2 separate regions of the Homo sapiens genome follow, and region 2 is linked to region 1. The links come from fine-mapping of genetic effects on gene expression. Tissue or cell type: whole blood. Region 1 holds a variant in brackets; the other region holds the start of a gene. All regions are shown on one strand. Distances are from middle to middle.

Region 1 (12,586 bases):
TCCCACCTCCACAAAATCCACCTGGGAGAGTTTACTGTACACGAAGCCCAAATTCAGTCACCCCCCACCCCTCCTCTCCCAGAAAGGGAGGCAGGGCAGAGGCTCCAGGAGGAAGGGCTACATTTTGGCTATAGAGTACAATAGGCATGCATCATGGGAGGGCAGGGTTTATGAAATGGATTGAGGGGCTCTGGCCAGGAGGCACTGAGCAAGGGACAGGTCCATCTTCCCCCTGGCTGGGAGGGGGGCTCTGGGACAATCTCTAAGGGTTGCATATCCCCAGGGAGAGGGGATATATGCCATTCTTGTCTCTATTCTCCCAACCCAAACCAGAGAGGGTGCTGAGCAAGGAGAAAACAGGGTCTCAGAAGCCAAGAAGGTGTCGGCATCACTGTCATTGAATTCAGGGACCCATGAACTCTTTTTTTTTTTTTTTTTGAGATGGAATCTCACTCTGTCGTCCAGGCGGGAGTGTAGTGGTACAATCTTGGCTCACTGCAACCTCCACCTCCCGGGTTCAAGCGATTCTCCTGCCTCAGCCTCCTTAGTAACTAGGATTATAGGTGCATGCCACTACACCCAGCTAATTTTGTACTTTTAGTAGAGACGGGTTTTCGCCATGTTGGCCAGACTGGTCTTGAACTCCTGACCTCAAGTGATCCATCCGCCTCGGCCTCCCAAAGTGCTGGGATTACAGGTGTGAGCCACCACATCTGGCACGAACTCTTTGCATAAAATATCTTCAGACCTAGGAGGTGGTCAAAGGCACAAAGTTTAAACATGGGGTGGGGGTTGTGGAGAGGTGTCTGGGGTACCCTGAAGCTCAGAGGTGTGATTTGTTCCCCCTTGCCCAGAAGGGTGACTGCTCCACTGGGCCTATCACCACAGGACATTTTCCATGACAAGCACTCACCTTCTTGGGGAAGGGACATCGGGTTGGCACAGGAAAGGCGTAGGTAAGGGGCCACTCTGTCCATTAATACTTCGGGTGATTAATGTTTGGGGAGAAGCAAGATTCTCCCCCAGGCTTCTGACTCAAACTCTCTCACTTAGCTGGATACTAAACCCAGTGTCCACACTACCCTCAGCTCTGACACAAGGCCAAACCCACAGAACACTCCCAAATGAGGTCCCGAGAGTTAGGGAATAGGGTGGAATCTTCTGGAAGAGGGCGCTGGGGCAGATCACAGTTTCCACTTCACAGGTTGCTGTAGATACAGTTCACTGCCCACAGAGATGATAGGCCAGTGATTGTCCATGTGGTAGCTGATGAGGTGACTGACACTCTCTTTTTTTTTTTGAGACGGAGTCTCGCTCTGTTGCCCAGGCTGGAGTACAGTGGCGTGATCTCGGCTCACTGCAAGCTCCGCCTCCTGGGTTCACACTATTCTCCTGCCTCAGCCTCCTGAGTAGGGACTACGGGCGCCTGCCACCACGCCCAGCTAATTTTTTGTATTTTTAGTAGAGACCGGGTTTCACCGTATTAGCCAGGATGGTCTCGATCTCCTGACCTTGTGATCTGCCTGGCTTGGTCTCCCAAAGTGCTGGGATTGACACTCTCAAAGCAGTGATCCTTTGTCCAAACCAGTCCTTCAGGGTCCACCAATAGCAGGTGCTTAGGCAGCCCACTCTGCAAGCCAGTAAGCACATACTGGCCTTGGTCATGCTCTCCCGCACCAGGAAGTCGCCATGGAGCTGCAGCAATGCCTCAGCCTCTCGCTGGCTCAGCTTCCCGTGGAACCAGGGCTCCCCTTGGAGCTGCTCAGCCATGGAAACCACTGGGGAGGGGGAGGCACCCAAAGAGCATCTTTAAAGGGCTTCATGTCAAAGAGGTCCCAGGGTGCACTGCGATTGATGGCAGGATGGGGGGGCCTAGCACCACCTTCTGCTTGCCGGGCCTTGTCTAGGTTCTGGACGTTGATATAGGGATCATTGAAGAGCTCTCTGCCTGCTGGACAGGGTGGTGGAGGTGGCATCTGTTTGCGGACTTCTGGATCTCCCCCAGCAGGCTATCCCACAGGCAGTGTAGCTCCCAAGTGGCTGGGGGTCCAGACACTGGGTGGAGTGGGTCAAGCAGCCTCTGAAGTGGCTCCTTCCCGAAGCCTCATGTCTACCAACTCCCCAAGAGAAGGTTCCTTCCCAGGGACGTCATTATAGTACTAATGGTCAGGTGGCTCTTCCTCCTCCTCATCCCAAGCTGATCCATCAAAGCCAGCCATCCTGTCTTGGGGGTGAGCAGTTGGGGTGGGTTCGTGAGGTATTGTTTGAAGCACAACTCGAAGGCCTGGCCAATGGTGCTAATGACATCCTGGGAGGGCCTTTGGGACACTCCAGAATGTGGCAGGCTCTCTGATTCACAGGGTCTTTGGCAACGTAGGCAACATCCTCAGCTGTGTCCTGTTTGCAGTCTGCGGCCATGAGGTTGAGGCTGCTGGTGGAGACGGTGAGAGTGATTGGCATTCCAGCAAATTTCAGGTTACTCCTTCCCAGGATAGAGCTGAGCAGGCAGCTACAGGGCTTTCTCTTCCTTGTCACCCCCTTCACACCCAGCACAGCATCACACACCAGACTGATGGCCTGCCTCCCTGCGTGACCTGAGTTGGGTGTTGAAGTCGAGGGCACGCATTGATTGCAGGACCTCCATATAGCCCATGGAAGTGAGCCTGGGCCATTAGCATCCTCTGCTACAACAGCTGTGGATTGGAGCTAGCAAAGTGAGGACAGGAAGGAAGTGGTCCCAGCGGACATAGAGCAGGGCCAAGAGGAAGAGCAAAGCAGGGCCTCATGGAGTCTCCGCACCGCACCACAGGCCGATTTGATTCCAGATCACACCACTGCCTGCTTAGGTCACCACTCCAACTTTCTCCCCTGGCTCTGCCTCCCTAGAGAAACTTTATTACGCTCACTTCCCGCCTCACTAACCCCTGACCCTCTCCCCCTGCAGTTTTTAACTTTCTGAGTTGCTCACATTGAGCCTACAGCAATTTGTCAATTACACTTCAGGTTTTTCTACCCTGGCACTGGTTCCTGTGGAGGTTACTGCTTGTGAGTTTCTGCTCCCATCAACTGTGATTCTCAGGCTGGGCGTGGTGGCTTATGCCTGTAATCCCAGCACTTTGGGAGGCTGAGGCAGGAGTATTGCTTGAGCCCAGTAGTTCAAGACCAGCCTGGACAACATAGGGAGACCCCATCTCTACCAAAAATTGAAAAATTAGCTGGGTGTGGTGGCTCGTGCTTGTAGTCCCAACTATTAGAGAGGCTGAGATGGAAGAATCGCTTGAGCCCAGGTATTTGAGGCTGCAGTGAGCTATCATTTTGCCACTGTACGCCAGACAGAGCAAGAGCCTGTCGAAGAAAAAAAGAAATTGTGATTTTATCTGACTGTCTCACCAATTTAGGGCATAGCAATTTGCTGTGTGACCCCACTTCTCTGATGGATCTAAGAAGGGTTGATTTTTCAGTTTGTTCAGCTTTTTACTTGTTTGAATGTAGAGGTGATTTCCAAGCTCTTTACATGTTAGACTGGAAACTCTTCTTCCTGTTTTTTTTTTTTTTTTTTTTAAGAGATGAAGTCTTGCTATGTTGCCCAGGCTGATCTTGAACCCCTGGGCTTATAATCCCAACTCCAAAGTGTTGGGATTATAGGCGTGAGCCACCTTGCCCAGTTGAAATCCTCTATTTCGTTTTGAGTGAATTTGGCTGTTTGTGTCTTTCACTCTGTTTAAAAAACTATATATGGGTTGGGTGTGGTAGCGCATGCCTATAATCCCAGCACTTTGGAAGGCCAAAGCAACGGGATTGCTTGAGCCCAGGAGTTTGAGACCAGTCTGGGCAACATAGCAAGACCCTCTCTCTACAAAAAAATACAAAAATTAGCCGGGTATAGTGCCCTCATGCCTGTGATCCCAGCTACTCAGGAGGCTGAGGCAGGAGGATCACTGGAACCCAGGAGGTTGAGGCTGCAGTGAGCCATGATTGCTCCACTGCACTCCAGCGTGGATGACAGAGTGAGACCCTGTCTCAAAAGAAAAGAAAAAAGAAAAAAAATTCCCACACAGCACAGATGATAGGATTTTTTTTATCCTGACGTATAGGAACTTTATTTTACTTTTAAATTTATTTAATTAATTATTATTATTATTTTTTGAGGTGGAGTTTTGCTCTTGTTGCCCAGGCTGGAGTGTAGTAGCGCGATCTCAGCTCATTGCAACCTCTGCCTCCCAGGCTCAAGCAATTCTCCTGCCTCAGCCTCCCAAGTAGCTGGGCGCACCACCACGGCCAGCTAATTTTTGTAGTTTTAGTAGAAACAGGGTCTCACCATGTTGGCCAGGCTGGTCTCAAACTCCTGGCCTCAAGCGATCCGCCTGCCTCAGCCTCCCAAAGTGCTGGGATTACAGGAGTGAGCCACCGCGCCCTGCCAATAGGAATTTTACCATTTCGTTTAAGTTGTCAAATGTATGGGTATTTATGTTTGTAGTATTCCTTTGTTATTCTTTTAATGTTTTTAGGGTCTGTAGTGATGTCTTCCATTTCTGTTATTTATAATTTGTGTCTCTTCTCTGTTTTTCTTGGTCAGTCTGACCAAAGGTTTATAAATTTTACTCATTTTTTTTCAGAGAACTAGCTTTTCGTTTCATTGATTTCCTCTACTGTTTGTTCTTAATTTCATTGATTTTTTTTTTTTTTTTTGAGTGACTCACTCAGTTACCCAGGCTGGAGTGCAGTGGTGCTATCTCGGCTCACTGCAAACTCTGTCTCTCAGGTTCAAGCGGCTGTGCCATCTCAGCCTCCCGAGTAGCCAGGACGATAGGTGTGCACCACCATGCCCGGCTAATTTTTGTATTTTTATTAGAGATGGGGTTTCACCATGTTGGCCGGGCTGGTCTCGAACTCCTGACCTCAAGTGACCCACCTGTCTTGGCCTCCCAAAGTGCTGGGATTACAGACCTGAGCCACCAAGCCTGGCCAATTTCATTGATTTCTATTCTATCTTTATTATTTCCTTCCTTTTGTCTGCTTTGGGTTTAATTTGCTCATTTTTTCTAGTTTCTTATAGCAGGAGTTTAGGTTATTGATTTGAGATATTTCTTATTTTCTTTTTCTTTCTTTCTTTCTTTCTTTCTTTTTTTTTTTTTTTTTTTGAGATGGAGTCTCACTCTGTTGACCTCAAATGATCCGCCTGCCTTAGCCTCCCAAAGTGCTGAGATTACAGGCGTGAGCCTGCTCGCCTGGCCTCTTATTTTTTAATCTAGGTATTTAATGCTCTGTTTCCCCCTAAGCACTACTTCATTGCATCTCACAAATTTTGATATGTTTTCATCCTCCTTTAGTTCAAAATATTTCTCAATTTCACTTATGACTTTAGCTTTGGTCTATGGGTTATTTAGAAGTGCATTGTTTTACTTTCCAAATACTTAGGGATTTGTGGCCTGGCGCTGTGGCTCATGCCTGTAATCCCAACACTTTGGGAGGCCAAGGCGAGCAGATCATTTGAGGTCAGGAGTTTGAGAGCAGCCTGGCCAACATGGTAAAACCCCGTTGTCTCTATTAAAAATACAAAAATTAGCTGGTCATAGTGGCACACACCTGTAATCCCAGCTACTTGGGAGGCTGAGGCAGGAGAATTGCTTGAACCCGGGAGGCGGAGGTTGCAGTGAGCCGAGATCGCGCCACTGTACTCCAGCCTGGGCGACAGAGAGAGACTCTATCTCAAAACAAACAGAAACAAATATTTAGGGATTTGCTAGATGTCTTTCTGTTATTGATTTATAATTTAATAATGTTATGAACATAGGCTATGTTTTCTGTGATTTCCATTCCTTTAAATTTGTTAAGGTTTGTGTTTGTGGCCCAGAATGTTGTCTATTTTAAGGTGAATGATCCATGGGCATTTGAAAAGAATATGTATTCTGCTGTAGTTGGGTGGAGTGTACCCTAAAGATAAATTAGGTCAAGTTGGTTGCTGGTGCTATTTAGGTGTTCTATATCCTTCATGATTTTCTGTCCACTAGTTCTATCAATTATTGAGAGAGTAGTGGTAGTTCCTGCCATAATGGTAGATTTATCTGTTTCTCCTTTCAGTTCCATTAGTTTTAACTTCATGTATTTTGAAGTTTTGTTTAAAAAATTATATAAGGGCCAGATGGAATGACTCATGCCTATAATCCCAGCACTCTGGGAGGTCGAGGTGGGAGGATCGCTTGGGCCCAGGAGTTTGAGACCAGCCTACGCAACATAGGAAGACCTTGTCTCTACAAAATTTTATTTTTTAATTG[G/T]CTGGGTGTGGTGGTGGGTGCCTGTCGTCCTAGCTACTCCAGAGGCTGAGGTAGGAGGATTACTGGAGCCTGGGGGGTTGAGGCTGCAGTGAGCCATGATTGAGCCACTGTACTCCAGCCTAGGCGACAGAGCGGGACGCTGTCTAAAATTTAAAAAAAATAAAATGCACACACATATATAGACATGCTCTATTTTAAAATATATGTAAGGTAGGCTTGGCGCAGTGGCTCACGCCTGTAATCCCAGCACTTTGGGAGCCTGAGATGGGTGAAATCACTTGAGTCCAAGAGTTCGAGACCAGCCTGGGCAACATGATGAAACCCTACCTCTACCAAAAATACAAAAAATTAGCTGGATGTACTGAAACATGCCTGTAGTCCCAGCTACTAGGGAGGCTGAGGTGGGAAAATCACTTGAGCCCAGGAGGTGGAGGTTGCAGTGAGCCAAGATCGTGCCACTGCACTCCAGCCTGGGAGACAGAGCGAGACCCTGTCTCAAAAAAAAAAAAAAAAAAGGAAAAATATATATGTAAATTAGTGTTCACATATAATAAATCTGGAGGAATATACTCTAAATTATTAACAGTCATTACTGGAGGTTTTTTTGTTTTTTGTTTTGTGTTTTTAGAAACAGCCTCCCACTCTGTCTTACTCTGCTGGAGAGCAGTGGTACCATCATAGCTCACTGCAGCCTCAAAGTCCTGGGCTCAAGTGATCCTCCCACCTTAGCCTCTCGAGTAGCTGGGACTACAGGTGAACACCACCACACCTGGCTAATTTTTAAATTTTTAGTAGACACAAAGTCTCACCATGTTGCCCAGGCTGGTCTTGAACTCCTGACCTCAAGTGATCCTCCTGCCTCGGCCTCCCAAACTGCTGGGATTACAGGCATGCGCCACCACACTTGGCCAAATTACTGGAGATTTTTATTCTGTATGTTAAATCATTCTGTAATTTAAGTGTTTTATACATGTATTATTTTTGAAATCTGAAAATACAAAGATATGTTTTAATGGAAGTAGAGAGATGATTTGATGTGTGTGAGTGTGCATGTGTCCCCCAGCCTGAAAAGCATTTTCTGGTCCATCTTGGGAAAAAGTCAGCTGAGCACTCCTGCTGGGCCCTCAGGCCATAACCCACACCTCCTGCTTCTGCTTCCTCACCCAGCCCTTCCTTCCTTACCTCCTGTCAGCTGGCTCTGGGCCCAGGTACATGGGAAAGAAAACCTTCTGAGGTCACCATGTGGTCTGCCAACCCAGCAGGCTTTCCATGATGTCACTTCACTTTGCTGAGCAAATTTCACCCATTTCTCTTCAGGCTACTTCTCAGATATATTCCATTTCATAGACTCTATTCCTTCAAGATATTCCACCTCTCTCATCACTGGGACAGTTACTGCTTGTCCCTCAGGAGTCAGATCAAATGTCTCTCCCTCCAAGAAGCCCTGCCTTACTCCAGCTCCCTCTGCTCCTGCCACTCCCTGCACAATACTAGTGTTTTCTTTTGTTTTGTTTTTGAGACAAGGTCTCACTCTGTCACCCAGGCTGGAGTGCAGTGGCGCGATCACGGCTCACTGAAGCCTTGACCTCCTGGGCTCAAGTGATCCTCCCACTGCAGCCTCTGGAATACTGAGACTATAGGCGCTTGCCACCACGCCTGGCCACAATTTTTTTTTTTTTTTGAGACAGGGTTTTGCCACATTGCCCAGGCTGGTCTCAAACTCCTGGGCTCAAGGCATCTGCCCACCTCAGCCCCTCCCAAGGTGCTGGGATTACAGGCGTGAGCACCATGGCCAGCCAGTGCTCACTCTTGCTGAACGTCGGGCCCCATGCTGACTGCAGGTCCTATGATAGCATGGGCTATGTCAGCCCGCCTCTGCTACTGACTCACTGACATGCACAGATTCCCAGTTTGCCTCCTTACAGCGAATTCCTCCTGTATGAATTCACTTCCAGGTGAATCACTTTAATCATGTCACTTCCCAGCCCAAGAACCTGCAAGACTCCCTAATGCCTCCTGAATCAAGTCCAAACCCTTCTGGGCAGTTAGGGTTCTTCAAACTTGACCTTGCTTTTTCCATCTTATATGAACCTCTTCTAGAAGGACTCACCTCTGCAGTCAAGACTTCCCTGTGCTGTCGATACACCATTCCCACCTCCCTGCCCTTGGCCAAACCACTCCCCTACCTACCTGGAAGGTACCCCACCCTCCATTCTCCCTGACCCTTGAGAACAAATTGAATTCCTTTCTTTTTGAGACGGAGTTTTGCTCTTGTCGCCCAGGCTGGAGCGCACTGGCACCATCTCATCTCGGCTCACTGCAACCTCCACCTCCCGGGTTCAAGCAATTGTCCTGCCTCAGCCTCCCAAGTAGCTGGGATTACAGGTGCACGCCCCCACACCCGGCTATTTTTTGTATATTTAGTAGAGACAGGGTTTCACCATGTTGGCCAGACTGGTCTCAAACTCCTGACCTCAGGTGATCCGCCCACCTCAGCCTCCCAAAGTGCTGGGATTACAGATGTGAGCCACCGTGCATGCCCCCAACTTGAATTCTATCCAGTGTCCAAAGTCTAGTTCCTCTTCTCCACAAGCATTCTGTCTCTGGACTTCATAAGCTTGATGGCATAGAGGTGTAGAAGGACACCAGGCTCTTGGTCAAACAGCCGTGCATCTGAATCCTACCCTGCCTCTTAGAAGCCGTATGAGCTAGGGTGAGTTCCTTATCTTCTCTGTGCTTCAGTTTCCTTATCAGTAAGATGGGGCTAAAGCCGACCTCACAGGGTTATTGTGAGGAGGAAAAGAGTAAGAACACGGAAAGCACCTGGAACTGTGCCTAGCACATAGTATGTGCTCAATAAATACTGAAAGCTACTTCTTCAGCCCATTCTGCTCTCTGCCCTCTCAATTTCCACAGCTCATGTCCCTGCAGCCTGCCAGCCCTGGGTCACATCCTGTCACACAGCCCTAGAACTGTTCCATATGGTCAGCAAAACTGAGAACCCAGACCCCTCATATACAAAGAGACAGAAACAAACCTCTCAAATATGACACACCTTGTTAGCAGTGATCAGAGGAGAAAAGGGTTTATTACCCAGTCCCGGAGTGACACCATCCCCCACCCAACAACTCTCAACAACTTGATAGGGCCCAAAGAGGGAAGGGGCCTAGAAGACTGAGAGCAAAAGAGAAAGGTGAGGCTGGCCAGGCACAGTGGCTCATGCCTGTAATCCCAGCACTTTGGGAGGTCCAGGCGGGCAGATCACCTGAGGTCAGGAGTTTGCCAGCCTGGCCAACATGGTGAAACTGTATCTCTACTAAAAATACGAGAATTAAACTGGCATGGTGGCGGGCGCCTGTATTCCCAGCTACTTGGGAGGCTGAGGTAGGAGAATCGCTTGAACCCGGAAGGTGGAGGTTGCGGTGAGCCGAGACCCTGCCACCATGCTGTTGCACTCCAGCCTGGGTGACAAGAGCCAAACTCCATCTCAAAAAAAAAAACAAAAAAAACGAGAAAGGTGAGACCTTTAAGAGATGATAGGAGCCCCTCTCCCTCTCCCTCTCCCTCTCCCTCCTCTCCCTCTCCCTCTCTTTCCACGGTCTCCCTCTCATGCCGAGCCGAAGCTGGACTGTGCTGCTGCCATCTCGGCTCACTGCAACCTCCCTGCCTGATTCTCCTGCCTCAGCCTGCCGAGTGCCTGCGATCGCAGGCGCGCGCCGCCACGCCTGACGGGTTTTCGTATTTTTTTGGTGGAGACGGGGTTTCGCTGTGTTGGCCGGGCTGGTCTCCAGCTCCTAACCGCGAGTGATCCGCCAGCCTCGGCCTCCCGAGGTGCCGGGATTGCAGACGGAGTCTCGTTAACTCAGTGCTCAACGGTGCCCAGGCTGGAGTGCAGTGGCGTGATCTCGGCTACAACCTCCACCTCCCAGCCGCCTGCCTTGGCCCCCCAAAGTGCCGAGATTGCAGCCTCTGCCCGGCCGCTACCCCGTCTGGGAAGTGAGGAGCGTCTCTGCCTGGCCGCGCATAGTCTGGGATGTGAGGAGCCCCTCTGCCTGGCTGCCCAGTCTGGAAAGTGAGGAGAGTCTCTTCCCGGCCACCATCCCATCTAGGAAGTGAGGAGCGTCTCTGCCCGGCCGCCCATCCTCTGAGATGTGGGGAGCGCCTCTGCCCCGCCGCCCCGTCTGGGATGTGAGGAGCACCTCGGCCCGGCCGCGACCCCGTCTGGGAGGTGAGGAGCGTCTCTGCCCGGCCACCCCGTCTGAGAAGTGAGGAGACCCTCCACCTGGCAACTGCCCCATCTGAGAAGTGAGGAGCTCCTCCGCCCGGCTGCCACCCCGTCTGGGAAGTGAGGAGCGTCTCCGCCCGGCAGCCACCCCGTCCGGAAGGGAGGTGGGGGTCAGCCCCCGCCAGGCCAGCCGCCCCGTCCGGGAGGGAGGTGGGGGGTCAGCCCCCCACCCGGCCAGCCACCCCGTCCGGGAGGTGAGGGCGCCTCTGCCCGGCCGCCCCTACTGGGAAGTGAGGAGCCCCTCTGCTCGGCCAGCCGCCCCATCCGGGAGGGAGGTGGGGGAGTCAGCCCCCCGCCCGGCCAGCCGCCCCGTCCGGGAGGGAGGTGGGGGGGTCAGCCCCCCGCCCGGCCAGCCGCCCCGTCCGGGAGGGAGGTGGGGGGGTCAGCCCCCCGCCCAGCCAGCCGCCCCGTCCGGGAGGTGAGGGGCGCCTCTGCCCGGCCGCCCCTACTGGGAAGCGAGGAGCCCCTCTGCCCGGCCAGCCGCCCCGTCCGGGAGGGAGGTGAGGGGATCAGCCCCCCGCCCAGCCAGCCGCCCTGTCTGGGAGGTGAGGGGCGCCTCTGCCCGGCCGCCCCTACTGGGAAGTGAGGAGCCCCTCTGCCCGGCCAGCCGCCACGTCCGGGAGGGAGGTGGGGGGGGGTCAGCCCCCCCGCCTGGCCAGCCGCCCCGTCCGGGAGGGAGGTGGGGGGGTCAGCCCCCCGCCCGGCCAGCCACCCCGTCCGGGAGGGAGGTGGGGGGGTCAGCCCCCCGCCCGGCCAGCCGCCCCGTCTGGGAGGGAGGTGGGGGGGTCAGCCCCCCGCCAGGCGAGACGCCTCGTCCGGGAGGGAGGTGGGGGGTCAGCCCCCTGCCCGGCCAGCCGCCCCGTCCGGGAGGTGAGGGGCGCCTCTGCCCGGCCGCCCCTACTGGGAAGTGAGGAGCCCCTCTGCCCGGCCACCACCCCGTCTGGGAGGTGTACCCAACAGCTCATTGAGAACGGGCCATGATGACAATGGCGGTTTTGTGGAATAGAAAAGGGGGAAAGGTGGGGAAAAGATTGAGAAATCGGATAGTTGCTGTGTCTGTGTAGAAAGAAGTAGACATGGGAGACTTTTCATTTTGTTCTGTACTAAGAAAAATTCTTCTGCCTTGGGATCCTGTTGATCTATGACCTTACCCCCAACCCTGTGCTCTCTGAAACATGTGCTGTGTCCACTCAGGGTTAAATGGATTAAGGGCGGTGCAAGATGTGCTTTGTTAAACAGATGCTTGAAGGCAGCATGCTCGTTAAGAGTCATCACCACTCCCTAATCTCAAGTACCCAGGGACACACACACTCTGCCTAGGAAAACCAGAGACCTTTGTTCACTTGTTTATCTGCTGACCTTCCCTCCACTATTGTCCTATGACCCTGCCAAATCCCCCTCTGCGAGAAACACCCAAGAATGATCAATAAAAAATAAATAAATAAATAAATAAATAAATAAATAAAAAGAGATGATAGGAGCCGGGTGTGGTGGCTCACGGCTATAATCCCAGCACTTTGGGAGGCCGAGGCAGGCGGATCACAAGGTCAGGAGTTCCAGGCCAGCCTGGCCAATATGGTGAAACCCCGTCTCTACTAAAAATACAAAAATTAGCTGGGCGTGGTGGTGGGCACCTGTAGTCCCAGCTACTCAGGAGGCTGAAGCAGGAGAATTGCTTGAACCCAGGAGGCGGAGATTGCAGTGAGCTGAGATAGCGCCACTGCACTCCAGCCTGGGCGACAGAGCGAGAGATGATAGGGATCTTGAGGGCCGCCCTCATGAATGGATTAATTCATTCATAATTAATGGTTAGAGGGGAACTGATAGCTTTATAAGAAGATAAACCTGAATTAGCATGTTAGCAAGCGCAGTCCCCTGACCATGTGATGTGATGCCCTGCATGGCCACAGGGCACCACAGAGAGTTTCCAAGTTCCAGGCTCTGCCTCTCTCCAACAAAGAGGAGTGGGGTTCCTATCCCTGGTTCTTACTCTTCAAGACCTCTCCCAAGTTTCCAACCCCACCCT
Region 2 (11,774 bases), 35 kb after region 1:
CTGCAGCATCCTTGGGAGTGGTCCGCAGGTCTGGACGATGTGGTCCTACTTCTCTCCCTGACCCCATCTTGCACTCCGTCTCTCTCGCTCTCTCCCCACCTAGCCTATTGGCCTCCTGTGGTTCCTAGAACTCACTAAGCCCTTTCCTGTCCCAGGGCCTTTGCACATCCAGCTGTCCATATCCCGGACACCCTCCCCCCAATACCTCAGACCTTCTCACATCTCGGCCCAAATGTCTCCTCTTCAGAGGCCCTCCCTGGCCACCACCTTGACCCAATCTGTCATGTTCTGGTTTCTTTTCCCTCCCTCCTTCCCTCCCTTCCCTCCTTCCTTCCTTCCTTCCTTCCTTCCTTCCTCCATCCCTGCTTCCTTCCTTCCTTCCTCTCTCTCTCTCTTCCTTTTTGAGACAGAGTCTCACTCTGTCACCCAGGCTTAGAGTGCAGTGGCATGATCATAGTTCACTGCAGCCTTGAACTCCTGGGCCCCAGGGATCCTCCTGGCCCAGCCTCCTGAGTAACTGGAATTATAGGCATGCCACAGTGCCCAGGTAATTAAAAAAAAAAAAATCTGTGTGTAGAAACAGGGTCTCACTATCTCAGTGTGGGCTGCTGATTTCTTTCTTCTTTTTTATTTTTTTGAGAGCGGGTCTCCCTCTGTTATCCAGGCTAGAATGCAGTGGCATGATTACAGCTCACATCAGTCTCAAACTCCTAGACTTAAGTGAACCTCCCACCTCAGCCTCCAGAGTAGCTAGCACACACCACCATGCCTGACTAATTTTTAAATGGTTTCTTGGTTGGGCGTGGTGGCTCACACCTGTAATCCTAACATTTTGGGAGGCTGAGGCAGGCAGATTGCTTGAGCTCAGGAGTCCGAGACCAACTGGGCAACATAGTGAAACCACATGTCTACAAAAATACAAAAATTAGCTGGGTGTGGTGACGTATACCTGTAGTCCCAGCTACTTGAGAGGCTGAGGTGGGAGGATTGCCTAAGCCTGGGAGGCAGAGGTTGCAGTGAGCCAAGATGGCACCACTGCACTCCAGCCTGGGTGACAGAGTGAGACTCTTTAGAAGGAAAACAAAACAAAACAAAAAAACCAATACGTGGTTTCTTGATTGATTTGTGTTCATATTATCTGACAATGCTTTTGGAAGGGAAACTACCTGAGTGCGAAGACCCTGTATGTCCCATCCCCACGAAATTCACTACTCCTAGCAGAGTGGCTGTCACGTAGTAGGTGCTCAATAAACATTTACTGAATGATTGTAAGAATGGCTCCCTATTGCGGGGTTGGGGCTCTGAGACTGGGGAGCCAGGATGACTAGGCCCCAGCCAAGAGGCCTCTGAGCTCGGGGTCTCAGTTTTCTCAGTTGTGTCCCTAGCAGAGAGGAAGGTGTGCCTTCCCCAGGAATGTGAGGGCAGGTCCAAGGGGAGGACAGGGGTCACCTAAGGTGGCCCCAGACTGGGTGTGGAGGTGCCTCTTTTCCCTCCTCGCCCACTACAGCACAGGGCATTGAGGTGACAGGCAATTGGGTCGGTTCAACAAAGGTTCCCACTCTGTGCCTGGCATTGTGTTGAGCACTGGAGGCTGTGGGGAGGGGGTGCCGAGCACTGGGGGCTGTGGGGAGGGGGTGCTGAGCACTGGGGGCTGTGGGAGGGGGTGCCGAGCACTGGGGGCTGTGGGGAGGGGCTGCTGATCACTGGGGGCTGGTGGGAGGGGGTGCTGAGCACTGGGGGCTGGTGGGAGGGGGTGCTGAGCTGAACAAGGCCCGTCTCTACTCTGGGGAAGCTCCTAGCCGCGACAGGGAGGCAAACTGGGAACACAGGGCAGCCTCAGTGCTTCCGAGGTGACATGGACCCCAGGGGCCGAAAGTGCTGAGTGCCAAGGATCTGTATGGCAGGAAGAAGAGCAGGACGCGTTTGCAGCACTCGGGGGTGGAGTCACCGGAGGAGGGGTCACTGGCGCTAGCCTAAAAACACAGGTGAGTTTTTCTTGTTTTTGAGACACAGTCTTGCTCTCTCTCCCAGTCTGGAGTGCAGTGGCGCGATCTTGGCTCACTGCAAGCTCCGCCTCCTGGGTTCACGCCATTCTCCTGCCTCAGCCTCCCGAGTAGCTGGGACTACAGGCGCCCGCCACCACGCCCAGCTAATTTTTTGTATTTTTTTAGTAGAGACGGGGTTTCACTGTGTTAGCCAGGATGGTCTCAATCTCCTGACCTCGTGATCCACCCACCTCGGCCTCCCAAAGTGCTGGGATTACAGGTGTGAGCCACCGTGCCCAGCCAAGCACTGGTGAGATGTGAAGGGCTGGGAGTCCAGATGTGAGGCATGCCTGGGTGGAGCTGAACAGGTGGGCTGAGCAAGGTGGGAAAATGCCACGTGAGGGCATGGGGCAGGGAGCCTGGCCAACATGGTGAAACCCCATCTCTACTGAAAATACAAAAATTAGCCAGGCGTGGTGGCGCATGCCTGTAATCCCAGCTACTCAGGAAGCTGAGGCAGGAGAATCCCTTGAACCAGGGGGCAGAGGTTGCAGTGAACCGAGATTGCGCCACTGCACTCCAGCCTGGGCAACAGAGCGAGACTCCGTCTCAAAAAAAAAAAAAAAAGAAAGAAAGGGATGTGCAAACAGCCTTCTTTCTGAGGAATGGGTGACCCTGCAGTCCTGGGGGTAGGGAGGGGATTACTGGATCTCACCAGACTGGAGAATGGGAGAGACCCCTGCCTTGGCAGGTGGGGCAAGTGATGGGGTGCGGGGGAGGGGTCCTGGACCTGAGGACGAGGTAGTCCCTACTGCAGGGCTTGGCTTTGCTCCTGAGGACCCTGATGACCCACCTCTTCTCTCTCTTTTTCCTCCTCCCTCTCTGCTTCTCCCAAAGTTCCTCTTTCTCTTCCATCTTTATTCACTTTCTTCCTTCTCTGGACTTGCCCATGCACTTTCTTAGGCCTCAGATGCTAAGGCCTCCAGGGTGTCTAAGCCTTAGGTACTAAAAGTCCCACCCATGGGGCTGGGACTGTGGCCTTGGTTGCCTATCTGAGGAGTGGAATGGTCAGAGGGGCCCTCAGAGCTGCAGAATCCAGAGGTCCAGGCTGCCTCTCTGCCACTGACTGGCTGAAGGGCCTTGGGCAGCTTCCAGCCTGTAGGCCTCAGTCACCCCATCTGTACAATGGGAGTGCCTTCCTGCCAGGGTTCTGAGACATCAGTGAGAGAGAAGAGGGGAAAACAGAGGTGCCTTGAGCTCAGTTGGAGACTTACAGGGCGCACCCATGACCCAGATTGCCACCCGCCAGCCAGGCCGCCCCCCAGCTGCAGGCCTTGTGCTGCCTAGCACTGATAAGGGCCTGGACCCAGATCGCTGCCCCAAGTTTTGGAAGTGCACCAAACACCTGGCCAGCTAGCCAGCTGGCCAGGGCCAGGCCAGATAAGGGTGAGCGGGACATCTGAGCCTAGAAGGTATAGCACAGCTGGGAAGACACGGCGGGAGAGGGGATTGACCAGATGACAGGGACAACTTCCTAGTGGTATGGCACCACCTTTGTGTAATCAGCCCGAACTGCACAAAGAACTGTACTGCCTTAACTCTTAGAATCCCCAAAGCATTCTGTGAAGTGGTTTGGGGATTCTAAGAGGAAGAAGAGTAATGTCATTAATCCATTCTACAGATGCGAAAGCTGAGGTTCAGAGACATTTACCTGCTTCAGCCACCCAGCAGGTAGGTATCAGAGCCAGGTTACAGCCTGGACTACCTGACTCCAGCCACATCCCTAAGCACTATGCTAAGTTGCCTCCAACAAAACAACTGTTAGCTGGTTTAGAGTTAGTTGTTAAGATCACGGACTCTGCAGTCGGACTGCCTGGATTCAAAGCCCAGCCCTGCCATTTACTAACGGCGTGTGACTTCAACTCTCTGTGCCTCAGTTTTCTCATCTGTAAAATGGGGGTGATGATAATGATGCCCATCTCATAGACCTGTTGTAAGCATTAAGGAAATTTACATTTGTAAGGGGCTTAGAACAGTGCCTAGCATATAAGGAGCGCTATGAAAATGTTTGCTGTCATTATCCCTTGCTGCTGGGGTTACAGTCAGACTTGCCATCTTCATTTCCCCTCTGATTTGCCCTCAGTTCCCATGGAATTAGCCTGAGCTAAGTGTTTTGAGATTCTCATGTGGTAGGAGGCTCTGCAGTTCCCTCCAATACTGACCACGCTGGGCGTGGAGCCAGGTGCCCCAGGTAGACCCCTGGAAGTGTCCCAAAGGGGATACTGTGTCAGCTGACATCCTGCCTCCTAGGTGGGAGAGGGGGTGGTCTGAGGACCCCATTAGGAAGGAAGGAGTCTGGGGTGGACAAGACCTGACCCTGTGGGATCCAACAAGCTGACAAGGGCCCATACCTGGAGGGGATCAGATACCCCCCGCAACACACGCACCGGAGCCACACATACCTCTGCTGCCATTGACCACCTGCCACCCTCCTCTTTTCAGGTGCCAATGGGCCTGTTCCCTTAGGGGCAACATATGCATGGTAACATTCTCACCCCACCCACCTGCACCCCCTTGGAGGTCAGGAGCCTGGCCCACCTGGGCATAGATTCAGGCTGGGCACCTGTAGAAGCCCTCAGGGCAGGCACCGAAGGACCATCCCCAGCCCCTCCCTGCCCTGCCCACCTGCTCACGAGCCTCAGGGTCCCTTGGTGAAGTCCTGCAGCCGCTGGTGCCCTCTGCGACCAGCTACGTTCCCACTCGTTCTGACAGCACCAGCGCCCCAGGGGCAGCTCGCAAACCCCTGACTCATGCCCCCGCCTCCTAATCTGCCCGCCCCACTGGCCCTGGGAGCCCCTTCCCACACCCCCCACCCCGCTCCCACTGGGTGCCCAGTAAACAGAGTTATCTCTTACCCACATCTGGACAGCTGTGAGTCTGGCCCACCCCACCCGCCTGGCCAGCCCCCAAGGCCTCTCGGGGCCCTCCTGGTCCCCATGGTTCTCCTGACTCTTCCTTTGTGGATGAAGGTTTGATCGCTCTGTCCTCAGGGCTCCCAGTGCCCTGGCAGGAAGGCACCAGCCTCCAGAGGTCCCTGTCCTGCCTCTGTCCATCCTCCACTCTGGCCAGGCCCTTCTGCTCTGGCCCCAAGGTGCAAGGGCGCCTGCTCCTCTCGTCTCTCTTGGTATCCACGCTAGGACTCACTCCTCCTCTGCAGTTTTCTCCACAGGGAACTGCTCAGCACTCACGGGGCACGGACAGCCCCCTCCCCTCCTTGATCCAGACTAGGATGCCCCAGCCACATTCTCCCCAAGACCCTGGCTGGTTCTAAAGAGCTGGCTCCTGGACACTAAGACACTGACATTCAGTCAACCTGAAACAATGTCAGCTCAACAAAACAACCATCCCCACACCAAGCTCTTCAACTCACAAAGCTCTAATGTCTGGGCATACTGGCTCCTCTGTAGGCAGCCTGGCTCAGGCCCCCAGGCCAGAACAGCCGCATTCTCAGCCCCTGCCATGCCCCTCCCCTTCAGTTCCCACCCCTACACCCCCAGTTTCTCTGCTCTGGGGGGTGACCAGAGCCTGGTCACCTCTTCGTAGGCTCTGGTTGCTAAAGAGGCAGAGACTGAAAGATGAGTACAGATCAGCAAGAATGAAGAGGGGTTTTCAAGCAGACAGAAAGGGGTGTTGTGGCCATCGCTCTGGGCACAGAGAGGAGGGTGTCCTAGTACAGCTCCGGCATGGACTGGCTGAAGGAACCTGGACAAGTCCCTGGCCCTCTCTGGGCTTCTGTTTTCTCATCCGTAAAGTGAGAGTGTTGGGTTATGTGGCCACCAGCCTGAAGTTCAGACTCAAGCAGAAGAAACTCAAACACAGGGACACACAGGTGGACAAATCCCGCCACTGCAAGACCATTCACTATCTGCACCACAAGCCTGCCAGGGGCTGAGTCCTGTGGAGAGAGAAAAGGGGAGGGACACGGGTCCTGAGGCAGAATCCTGTTTATGGAGGACCTCGGTTCCAGGAATTATGCTGAGGCCTTCATCTTGTGGTCACGCTGGATTCCTACAAACCCCCCACTTCACAGAGGAGGAAACAAAGCCACAGAGAGGCTTTCCCAGGAAAAAGAATGCCCAACGGACCAGCACCTGCCCCGTGCAGTGCACCATGCCTGGACTTCACACGCTCTAGCTTGCCAAGCTCTCTAAGCCCATCTGAGGACAACACTGTTTACGATGTTTATTCACCTCTCACAGAGAAAGGGCAGCAAAAGGAGAGCAGTGACTTGCCCAAGTCCTCTGGGCTGGTGAAGCCAGCGTGGGCACTCCGACCTGCTAATCTGCCTGGACAGCTGGTGTTCTGCCAGATCTGAGCCCCTCCCACCACCCAGGCCTTGGTGCCGGTCAGGAACAGAGAGAGGCCCTGGCTAAAGGGGGCTGGAGGTGCCTTCTCCTGCTCCAGCTGGTGGGATCTGTCCCAAACCCTGGGCCCACACTGGGTTGGCTTCCTATGGCCTGTGGCAGTGAGTGCCAAGTGAAGACCTTTGACTCCTTGACCCAGCCAGTGTGCCCAGTCCCCTTGCCCCTCTGCCTGCCCTAGGAGTCAGAGACAGCTGAGTGCAGGGGGCAGCAATGGGGCACCTCTCCTGGGGCCCGGGAAGGACTGACAGCTGGCTGGGGGTGGAACAACAAATGGCATCATCTGGCTTAGGGGGAAAATCTGGCCAGCTGTTTGGCTGTTCTGCAGGCACCACCCCCTGGCAGCCCCACCAGACAGCCAGGCAGAGGCACAGCAGCTTGGACGCTGGTTCTTTCCACTCACACCACATGTTCTAGATCATTCTTGTTGCCCTGGCTGAATGTAGATGTTTCTTTTCTAACTCTGCCCAATGTCACATTTAATCTTTTTTTTTTTTTTTTTTTTTTTTTTTTTGAGGCGGTGTTTCGCTCTTGTTGACCAGGCTAGAGTGCAATGGCGCAATCTCGGCTCACTGCAACCTCCGCCTCCTGGGTTTAAGCGATTCTCCTGCCTCAGCCTCCCAAGTAGCTGGGATTATAGGCGCCCACCACCATGCCGGGCTACTTTTTGTATTTTTAGTAGAGATGGGATTTCACCATGTTGGCCAGGCTGGTCTTGAACTCCTGACCTCAGATGATTCGTCTGCCTCCCAGAATGCTGGGATTACAGGTATAAGCCACTGTGTCAGGCCTCTTTTGTTTTTTGTTTTTTTTTGAAATGGAGTCTCACTCTGTCGCCCAGGCTGGAATGCAGTGGCTCAATTTCAGCTCACTGCAACCTCCACCGCCCGGGTTCAAGTGATTCTCCTGCCTTAGCCTCTTGAGTAGCTGGGATTACAGACGCCCAACACCACACCCAGCTAATTTTTGTATTTTTAGTAGAGTTTCACCATGTTGGCCAGGCTGGTCTCAAACTCCCGACTTCAAGTAATCTGCCCACTTCGGCCTCCCAAAGTGCTGGGATTACAGGTGTGAGCCACCTTGCCTGGCCCACATTTACTCTTGTTTATGCTTTTCCAGGAAGAGGTGAGGGCAACCCTCACTCATTTTATTCCAATTTGGACTTGGGTCAGTTTGATTCATCTGAAGGCCTCCATGCGCCTGGCACTAGGCTGCCCTCTGGGGAAGCAAGGCACGAGGGAGTCTTACCTCCCTTTGACTATGCCCCGGGCTGGACAGAGATGGTCGTGGTCAGAAAGATTGGCACCTGGAGGGCTTGAGCAGAGCCCCAAGATGCCTTGAGCTGTGCCCTGAGTGGCCCTTCACACACTCACAGCCCATCCTGCTCTTTCCTTGGAGTCCCTCTTGTCACTACTGCTCTACCACTTCCTAGAGCACTAAGGGAGGAGCCCTCAGATTCCCCTCCCCAAGGTCCATATGTGTCCTCGTTCAAATTTATACTCCTTTGGGAGAAAGCCGGGAGCCCAGGCAGATGTCAGCAGGAATGAAGTGAGCTGAGGGCGAACCCCGTATGATGTTATTTCAGAGCATACAGCTCAGATCACGGGTTGGGATGGGTTGTCCCAGAGGGAGACTCTGTGGGCAGAGGGTGGAGTTCTTCTGAAAGGACAAGACTTTCTCATTTTCTTTTTCCTTTTTCTTTCTTTCTTTCTTTCTTTCTTTCTTTCTTTCTTTTTTTTTTTTTTTTGATACAGAATCGCACTCTGTCACCCAGGCTGAAGTGCAGTGGCGTGATCTCGGCTCACTGCAACCTCCACCTCCCCGGCTCAAGTAATCCTCCTACCTCAGCCTCCTGAGTAGCGGGGACTACAGGCGCACACCACTACACCCAGCGAGTTTCGTATTTTTTGTAGACAGGGTCTTGTTATGTTGCCCAGGCTGGTCTCAAACTCCTGGCCTCAAGTGATCTTCCCACCTCGGCCTCCCAAAGTGCTGGGATATCAGGTGTGAGCCACTGCACCTGGCCTTACTTTCTCATTTTCAATCATCCTGGATGCAGTCAGCCCTCAAGTGAGAAGTGAGGACTGGGTAGTGGCCTTAGAAGGGCCAGCTGCTTTCTCTATCTTACTCTAAGGAGTAGAAGCTGAGACTAGGTAGGACGGGGGTTCGATGATGGTTAAGGGAACTGTCTCTTGCAATGGGATTGGCAATGAGGTGTCAGCTTGGCCTGTGACTGCTGAGGGCAGACCCATTCCATGTGAGCAGACCCTTACATCTTTTCTTCCATGCTCAGCCGGTAATTCTCAGCTGCTATCCTGAAGTCCTCAGCAAAGCTTGCTGGACTGGATCACCTGCCTCTGTTACCCCATGCGGATGGAGGGGAGGGTCTGAGACCATGTTTGGGGCAGAGCAGGCCATGGTTTGCGGTGGCAGCTAAGGTGAGTGGACATCCAGATGGCACGGGGGAGCACCTGAAGGGAGGTGTGGTGGCTGGAGCCAGGAGGCTGGAGGAGGGGACGTGGTCTGGCCAAGGTGGCCTGGAGGGACCTATGTACATTGCTCGGTGAAGATACGGCTTTCTGTGCCCTCATAGACTAGGGACTCAGACCCCTGGGATTTTGCATTAAAGGGAAGTGTCCCACGGCTGGGACATGTGGGCTGTAGAGGACCTCCTCGGGTTGGAAGCCCTGTGTGATCTTGAGCTGACCACACCCTCTCTCTGGACTTCCTTTTCCTCTCTGGACTGTTGTGACCACATGGGATGACAGGTGGGAAAGAGCTTGAAAATAGTCTTCTCTAGATGCAGGCAAGGGGCTGAGTAGTGAACGGGAGAAGGAGCCACGGGGCTCGTGTATCAGGCAGCCTGAGCCAAGGCAGCAGGGCAGGGACCACGCAGCGATAGGAGTTCATGTCCAGCAGGGAGTGTATACAAACCTCAGAGGGAGGATAAGGGATGTAAACAAGGGATGGGCCCGGAGGGACAAGTAATGCGGGAAGTGTGAGGTCCCCAGGGAGACCATGCTGGTGGAGGGCCCAGAGTTGTGAGGTGCAGCCCTGAGCAGTCTGGGGGTGGATGGAAGTGGGGCAGGGTGCACACACGTTAGGAATGGACCAGTCATCATTATCACCTGGTGAGGGAGTGGGGAGGTGCGGGGAATCAGGCGGGAGAGCTGGGGGATGGGGCTGGAACTGGAAAGGCTCTCAGAGCTGAGCCAGTCCAGTCCCCCTACCCTCAGAACCCTGTGCCCCGTGACCCTCATCACCAGCACCCTCGGCTGGGCCCTGGGGAGTCCTGGGAGGAAGGCGGTTTCTACTGTCTAGGGGCAGCCAGGCCAGATCTGTGCAAAAATAACTCACCCTGAGCATCCTTCCAGAGATACACGCTGGGAGTTCTGCAGGGTCCCCTGAGAGCTGAGGAGGAGGAAGAGGGGAAGTGGGAGTTCCAGCAGGACTTTGAAGGATGGGGGCGGTTTCTCCAAATGGGAGGAGGAGGGAGGTCAAAGGGCAGGTTTGGGCCAGTGTGATGGCTCAGGCCTGTAATCGGCACTTTGGGAGGCCAAGGTGGGAGAATTCCTTGAAGCCAGGAGTTCTCAAGACCAGCCTGAGCAACATAGCAAGACACCATCTCTACAAAAAGTAAAAAAAAAAAAAGTTACCTTTTTAGCCAAGTGTGGTGACACAGGCCTGTAGCCCTAGCTACCTGGGAGGCTGAGATGGGAAGATCGCTTGAGTCCAGGAGTTCAAGACTGCAGTGAGCTATGATGGCACCACTGCACTCCTGCCTGAGTGAGTGAGACCCTGTCTCTAATAAAGAAAATAAATAACTATTTTGGTGGCTCACACCTGTAATCTCAGCACTTTGGGAGGCTGAGGCAAGCAGATCACTTGAGGTCAGGAGATCGAGAGCAGCCTGGCCAACAAGGTGAAACCCTGTTTCTACTAAAAACACAAACATTTGCTGAGTGTGGTGGCGCATGCCTGTAATCCCAACTCCTCAGAGGGCTGAGGCATGACAATCACTTGAGCCCAGGAGGCGGAGCCCAGGTTGCAGTGAGCTGAGATCCTACCACGCACTCCAGCCTGTAAAACAGAGGAAGACCCTATCTCAAAAAATAATAATAAATAAATTCAATAATTTAAAAAACAAAAACAAGGGCAGGTTTGGAGAGCTGTGGGGTCAGCTTGGCTCTGCAGAGAGTTCAGTGTGCGGGGGTGTCCTGGGAGGAGGATCTGCTTGAGGGGCTCAAGGCAGGCTGTGAGCTCTCTGAGTCTTGACACTCACCTTTCTCTGAATGTTCTCTGTTCTCTTGGCTTCTGGATCTTTCCATGCACTGTTCCCTTGTCCTGAGATGCCTTTCCTTTCCAAACTTGCTGGACCAAAGCTTTGACCTTCAAGGTTCATTGTTTGCATTCCCAGCTCTGTGAATTCCTTCTCTCCCGCCAACCTTCCAACCCCTGGAGATTGACAGGTCCCAGCCCAGCACCTACCTGTGTCATTGCCTCTCTGCTCCCTACTGAGATGGTCCATGGTCCTGTGTGTCTCCTCCACAGATCATGTTCCCAAGGACAAGGACCCTCACTCAGGTCCTTAAACCTGACCAGGGCTCTGCCGGTAGTTGATAGTTTATATGAGTTTGTTGACTTGAATGAAATCAATACAAAAATCCGTCCCTTTGCCGGGTGCAGTGGCACATGCCTGTAATTCCAGCACTTTGGGAGGCTGAGGCAGGAGGATCACTTGAGACCGAGAGTTTGAGACCAACCTGGGCAACACAGTGAAACCCTGTCTCTATTAAAAAAAATTCTGTCCCTTACCCCACTGCCAAAAGTATAGGTGAAAAAACTAATATTTGGGCTGGATGCAGTGGCTCATGCCTATAATCCCCGCACTTTGGGAGGTCAAGGCGGGCAGATCACTTGAGGTCAGGAGTTCGAGACCAGCATAGTCAACATGGTGAAACCCTATCTCCACTAAAAATACAAAAATTAGCCAGGCATGGTGGCACACATCTGTAATCCCAGCTACTCGAGAAGCTGAGGCACGAGAATTGCTTGAACCTGAGCGGTGGAGGTTGCAGTGAACCAAGATAGTGCCACTGCCCTCCAGCCTGGGTGACAGGGCAAGACCATGCCTCAAAAAGAAAAGAAAACTAATATTTGAGAAAGGTCAAACAAGTGATACATTAACAGTCTTATTTTATTCGAATCCTTTCCCTAAACACAAGCAAGCAAAGAAACAAACCCTGAGCCTCCTCCAGTCCTCTCCATCCACTTGGTTCCTCAAATCCCCAAACCCAGTTGCTTCCTTGACTCTTAATTTTCCCTCACTCCCAATCCCCACTTCCAATAACAGCTCATTCTACTGGAT

What was found. PIP is the estimated chance that this variant, and not a neighbour inherited with it, causes the effect.
Region 2: SLC4A1 starts here. The variant in region 1 is the best candidate, but not a certain one, in a credible set for the expression of SLC4A1 in whole blood (INTERVAL, PIP 0.88).

Annotation. Positions count from the first base shown.
Region 1 is chr17:44,227,576-44,240,161 of GRCh38, forward strand. It overlaps the pseudogene SHC1P2. Among named protein-coding and RNA genes, the nearest start is that of UBTF, 14 kb to the left of the region's middle. RefSeq lists silencers at 7,572-7,772, 8,072-8,272 and an enhancer at 10,176-10,807. The variant G/T (reference allele first, on the strand shown) is at 6,276.
Region 2 is chr17:44,263,384-44,275,157 of GRCh38, forward strand. SLC4A1 (solute carrier family 4 member 1 (Diego blood group)) reads right to left here and starts at 4,752. Exons shown (of 20, transcript NM_000342.4): 1 at 4,671-4,752. LOC105371790 (a long non-coding RNA gene) reads right to left here. Exons shown (of 4, transcript XR_934778.4): 3 at 10,895-11,012; 4 at 10,652-10,795.